2 separate regions of the Homo sapiens genome follow, and region 2 is linked to region 1. Evidence: fine-mapped expression QTL. A gene starts in region 1. The other region holds a variant in brackets. All regions are shown on one strand. Distances are from middle to middle.

Region 1 (2,907 bases):
GGCATGCAAATATGAACCCAGGTGTCTGGTGCGCCGGGAGCCCCGGCGACGTTAGGAGCGCACTCCTTGCTGGGGTCACCGGAGTTGCGCTTGGCCGGGCAAGGATGACTCAGCCTCACTCCGGTCGGTCTTTACCGCCAGCCTGCGCGAGGGCTCCACAAAGTTCCCAATCACACCCCATACCTCGCACGGGGGAGAGGGGTTCTGCAAGCTGGGTCCCGGGGTGGGGGCAGCGGCGAGAGAGGCGGGGAGAAGCCTGGTTCCCAGAACGCGCAGGGGCTTCTCCGGCTTCCTTTCTCCTCGCCCCTGAGGGCGGCGAGAAGGCGCCTCCTCCGGCGCTCACTGCCTCCTGCCCAGTGCGGTGGGCGCCGGAGTGGGGAGCAGGCAATCCCCCAGGCTCGGAGAAATCTTTTATCCCGAAATCCAGGGTGTCCCCCGGTCAGGATCGACTCGGCGCCGCGTTGGCTTCCTCGCTCAACCCTGACATCCCGGTCCCCACCAGTCACCGCAGCCGGGCGGACTCCGAAGGCAGCGGCCGCTGGGGAGCCCCGGGGCCTGGGTCGGGCGCGCAGGGGGCCGCTGCGCTGCGGCCGGATGCCGGGAGCCCCGCGCTGGTGCGCCCAAGCCGTGGTGGCAGCACCGCCCTCCGTGCTTTCCCCTGTCGGGCGCCGCGGCCGGAGGAGCAGCTGCGGGCGGTCACGCAGCGCTGCCCTAGCCAGAGCCCCGAGCTCCCACCCAGTCCCATCCCCAGCCCGATCCGCCCCGCGTGCGATCCCGCCTGCCGCCGCGAGCCTGTGCTCCTTTCTGAGATTTCTGCTTCTTCCCCAGCTCCCTCCCCGCAGGAGAATCGCGCGGCGGGGGCGGAGGGCGCGCCCCCTTTAGGTTCCGCGGCCCCCGACCCCGCCCGGCCCAGGGGCGGAGCGGGCATGCTACGCCCTCTCCTAGCAGCCGCCCGCAAAGTGCGGAGCGCCGCGCCCTGCCCTCGGCTTCCCTCCCGCGCCCCCAACCCCCACCCTGGCTAGGGTCGCCCGGCCCGGGGCCAGCCCCAGAGTCGCGCCCGCGGTGGCGGACTGCGGAGTTGTAAAGAACTCAGCGGCCGCAGTAGCCCGGGTGGGGCAGGGCGCGCTCCGCCGCGGCCAAGGACACTGGAGTTTCCGAGTCCCCGCCCGCGCGGCGCCTCCTGCCCCGCCGCCCTCCCGCCGCGGCCCGCCGGACTCCCCGGGGCCGCCGAGGCGGGGCCGGGCGGCTGCTGCTGCTAGAGGCGCGTCTCGCTGCCTCCTCCCCCGCCCGCCTCCCTCCCCACCTCTCCTCCCTCCCTCCCCACCTCTCCTCCCTCCCTCTCCTCTCCGCCCTCCCCGCCCCCCCCACCCGCTCCTTTTTCTGCTCCCCAAGTGAGCCGGGCGCGCGAGAGGCAGGCGGGGCGGCGCGGAGCGGAGCAGGCAGCCCCGCGCGCTCGCCCACCGCCCGCTCCGCGCAGCTCCCCGCGGCCGCTCTCGTCGCCGCCGCAGCGGGCGCGTCGGAGGGAGCCCAGCATGGCCGGGCCGGGCTCGCCGCGCCGCGCGTCCCGGGGGGCCTCGGCGCTTCTCGCTGCCGCGCTTCTCTACGCCGCGCTGGGGGACGTGGTGCGCTCGGAGCAGCAGATACCGCTCTCCGTGTAAGTGCCGGCTCCTGCGCCGCCCGGGGAGGGGACCTTGCCGCCTGCGACCCACTGTGCCCAAGTTTGGGCGCCTGCAGGTGCGGCTGGGCAGGACCCGCCGCGGGCGTCGGCCTCGCCGCTCGCACCTGCCTTTCGGGACCCGCGTCGGGCGGCGAGGCCGGGGTGGGATGCTCTGGCCCCTGCCCGCAGGTTGCCGAGTGAGATCTGGAGAGGCTCACCTCAAGTGACGGCACCAACTTTGGAGCCTGGTTACCGAATCCAACTTCCATGGGCCGCTGAATTTCCCCCCTCTTTGCTCTACTGCCGCCCCACTTCTTTTTTTGGGGGGGGGATGGGTGGATTTCTTCTGACTGCTATTTGCCAGGTGATGCCCAGTTTGGGGGGTCGAGTCCTCGGGCAGTGGTTCGAATGAAACTCAGTGGTCTTTTTAGAGAGCCTGGGAGACTTTGCGCATTCTTAACTCCGCGACCCCCCTCGGGCCCCCTCCCGCGCTGCGCTTTGCAGTTTTGGTGCTGGCAGTTTCTACCAAGCCGCTTTTTCTATCTTTTCTTCTTTTAAAACATGTTACATCGCACTGCTCCTTCAGCCATAGTCCCATGTGTGCGTGTGCGTGTGCGTGCGTGTTGACTGTGACACGGGTGTTACATATCTTCCTGTGCCCCTTCTCCCTGTAGGGTGAAGCTCTGGGCCTCGGCTTTTGGTGGGGAGATAAAATCCATTGCTGCTAAGTACTCCGGTTCCCAGCTTCTGCAAAAGGTAAGGTTTCTGTGGTGGCAGGAAGCGATGATTTTTCCGGCACAGAAAATGGAGGCAGATTTAGTTTTCCAAACAAACGTGAGCCCCGAGCAGCATCAGTTATCGGAGGACTCTCTGATCCCCGGGTTTCTTGGCATTGTACTATGCAGTGACTTCTTCCTACCAACCGGTTATTTTTAGATGACACTTGATTCTAACCACAAAGAAAAGCAGGATACTCACTCGCACTGTCCTGGCTGGGGCTCGGAAACTGAGTGTTTTTGCATGGCTCTCGTCTCCGTGTCGGTATTGCTGTTTCAGTGCCAGAGCAGATGCTCCTCGGGCCAAAAAATGCTAACTTCATCCAAGGGGCAGACTCAGTGCCTATTTTGTGATGCCTTTCACCTTGCGTTGGAGGCGTGGGGTTCAGTGTATCAGAGAAAGACGCTGCACTATTGTTTGTCATCCCTGCAGTTGTACAATCCCATTATTCCCCAATCATCTAGACCCAGGGC
Region 2 (2,907 bases), 890 kb after region 1:
CCAACAATTTTCTTCACTTAGCTAGAACGCCACTGTTTTTTAACATGATATCAATCTCTCTAGAAGAATAACATTGTCCTTATGTAAAGCCCTAAATTAAGCTACAAATTTTGTGTGCACTACATTGTTTTTAATGAACTGAATTCTTCTCTTCAGCCTTATAATGCCTTCCTCTCTGCAGTAAAATGGATCATGACAGAACTTGTCTTGTAAGTAAAATCTGCTGCATTTTTTTGAAAAGTATTAATATTTTCCTTTTTGTATCATAAAGTGATCTAAGAGATTGTGAGTCATGCCTTCAATAACCATTAGATTCCTAGTACTCTGAGATAACTTCATTGAACATCTCAAAATATTGAACACAGAGACCAAAAAATGATCTTCTATTAAGTGACTGTTGATCACTCCTTATGCTATTAGGTCATCGTTTAGCAGATCATTTGCAATACACAACAAATTTACTTATTGTGGTTACTGCTCAATTTCACATGGATGTCTGGCTGATTTTACTGCAGCCTGGGTGGGCTGTGGTCAGAAGAGCACACTGCTGTGACTGTCCACCATGCCACTTTGGCTGTCTTGGCCTGTGCAGGAATGGGTGCCTGTGAGATTGTCAGCTAGGGCTGGGGGCTTTCTCAGGTATGATTTCATTGTTTATTCTGTCAAACTATGGTCTTGTTTGGAGGTGCTGGTTGCATCTATGACTTAGATAACACTTGAAATGGCACAAAGATGAAAGTCTTGACTTTCAGACTAGATATTAGACACATTACAGAAACACCGTGTCACACAAAAGGGAAGAATTACATAGATGAACATGTAAACAAGATTGTTTAAGTTGTACCAAACTCTCTCATTCTTATTTCCCCTGCTTATTTCCTACAGACTCCAGTTCTGTGGGTTTGAGGCAAATTTCATGCCATTTGATGGATAGTCACTGTCCTCTTAACTTAATGTAACCTATATTAATTTAATAAAGTTTGTGAATTCAAATGGGAAGTAAATTCTCCATATACACATGAGGCAGAGAAAGAACATTAACAGATAATAGTGGGATTTTGATTGAGAGAGAGCTGCTAGGAATAGTAGCCATAAGCCTGAAAAACAAATGACCAAATTTTGATCTCTCTTCATCCACTGGAGGATAATTTATATTATTTTTGTAGTCTTTACCAGCCATTGAGAAATGTTGATTTTTATGAAGTTCCATTGTGACATAATTTCATAGAGAGAAGTCTGTTCCACCTCCCTCTATACACACACACACACACACACACACACACACACACACAGGGGGCTTAAACAAGTTCAAGTCGCAGTATTCATTTTGAAAGCATGTTTTATTACTACAGTTCATAGTCTTGGTAGAGGAGAATATTCTATTTGTATTTCTGAACTAAGGGAAGAGAAGCTTATTAGAAATTGGCTTTTTACTGTGGAATCAAACTAGATGATATTAAGATTGAACAACTGGTGAACAACAACGAGAAAAGTATTTCAGCCTATACAGCAGGTTATTCCTCATCTAGGAATCTTTGAGTCTAGGTGAACCTGGCTTTAGGGATAAAATAGCCTTTCACAAGAAAGATAAACCCCTGTGAAAATTTAGTAGTAACTCAGCCAACTGTGTTGATATCTCCAAATTGTGATGTTCTCAAATGAGGTAAGCGATGCCAAAGAATACAGAAAGTCACTGTTCTGTGATATGGGCATGGATGACGAAGTAACATTGGGCTTTTCCACGATCTGTTTAG[G/T]TTCCTGGTGGAATTTAACCTCTGCAGTTGGTGGCACTCCGATATGACAGCTAAAGGTGAGCAGCAACTGGTTTCTGTTTCCCAGCTTGGAGGGATAAGCGCTGGGTTCACTGGCTACTTTTCATCAGGGATGTGCTGGCTCACAGAAAATTCCCCAGGACAAAGTGATGATTTTTCAGCTCTGTCAGCAAAAAGCCAGCCTTTGTGCTAAGTGCTGTGCTATCTAGTCTGACACAGAATTCCACAGGCTTCATTCAGCCCACGTTGAATGTACATCTTGACCTGTTTCCTTAACTAAGGCTTTGAGGTCATACATTGCACAGGTAAATTCTTCAGAAAGCTCATGGGCAATGCTGAAATAGAAGGGAGACAGACACACTGCCTGTGTCTCAGGCTAAATGAATGATTAGCCATTCTATTTCTGTTTTCACAGTTACCCTCATAGAACATAAATCTGACCACATTACTATCCCTTCTCAAATACCTTTGATGATTTGAGGAGGGTGTAATTAGTAGAGACTCTTGGAGGCATGGGTTGTGGAGTTAGAATAGGTTTCAGTCCCAGCTTAGAGGTTGGCCTTGGGCATATCAGCTGATCTGTCTCCAAGGCTCAGTTTCCCTATGCTAAGCACAATGGGGAAAAATAATATTTATCTTAGCAAGTGAATGTGTGTGTGTGCATGTATGTTTAATGCTGTGAGAAATCATATTACGTGCTGACCACAGTGACTGGAACATAAGTCCTCAAAAAATAGTAGCAATACTGCATGTTCTCATGTATAAGTAAGGTAAACACTGAGTACACATGGACACAAAGAAGGGAACAGCAGACACTGGGGCCTACTTGAGGTGGAGGGTGGGAGGAGGGTGAGGATGAAAAAACTACCTATCGGGTACTACGTTCACTACCAGGATGATGAAATAATCTGTACACCAAACCCTCGAGACATGCAGTTGACCCGTATAAAAAACCTGCATGTACCCTCCACACCTAAAATAAAAGTTGGAAGGAAAATAAATAAATAAAAGAAAGAGTATCCGTAATTATAATGGTGGTGACACTGTGACCATGACAATGATGATGATCGCCTCCAAATCCAGTGATCCTTAATGAACGCTGGCTCCAGCAGTCTGCCCCAGGCCTGCCCACTCA

What was found. PIP is the estimated chance that this variant, and not a neighbour inherited with it, causes the effect.
Region 2: its variant is fine-mapped to the expression of CACNA2D3 in whole blood (TOPMed, PIP 0.98).

The regions. Positions count from the first base shown.
Region 1 is chr3:54,121,182-54,124,088 of GRCh38, forward strand. It overlaps CACNA2D3 (calcium voltage-gated channel auxiliary subunit alpha2delta 3), which reads left to right and starts at 1,371. Exons shown (of 38, transcript NM_018398.3): 1 at 1,371-1,654; 2 at 2,332-2,413. The coding sequence starts at 1,533. LOC124909381 (a long non-coding RNA gene) reads right to left here and starts at 2,261. Exons shown (of 2, transcript XR_007095914.1): 1 at 1,876-2,261. RefSeq lists a silencer at 128-177.
Region 2 is chr3:55,007,634-55,010,540 of GRCh38, forward strand. It overlaps CACNA2D3 (calcium voltage-gated channel auxiliary subunit alpha2delta 3), which reads left to right. Exons shown (of 38, transcript NM_018398.3): 33 at 157-209; 34 at 1,755-1,810. Among named protein-coding and RNA genes, the nearest start is that of LRTM1, 81 kb to the left of the region's middle. The variant G/T (reference allele first, on the strand shown) is at 1,755.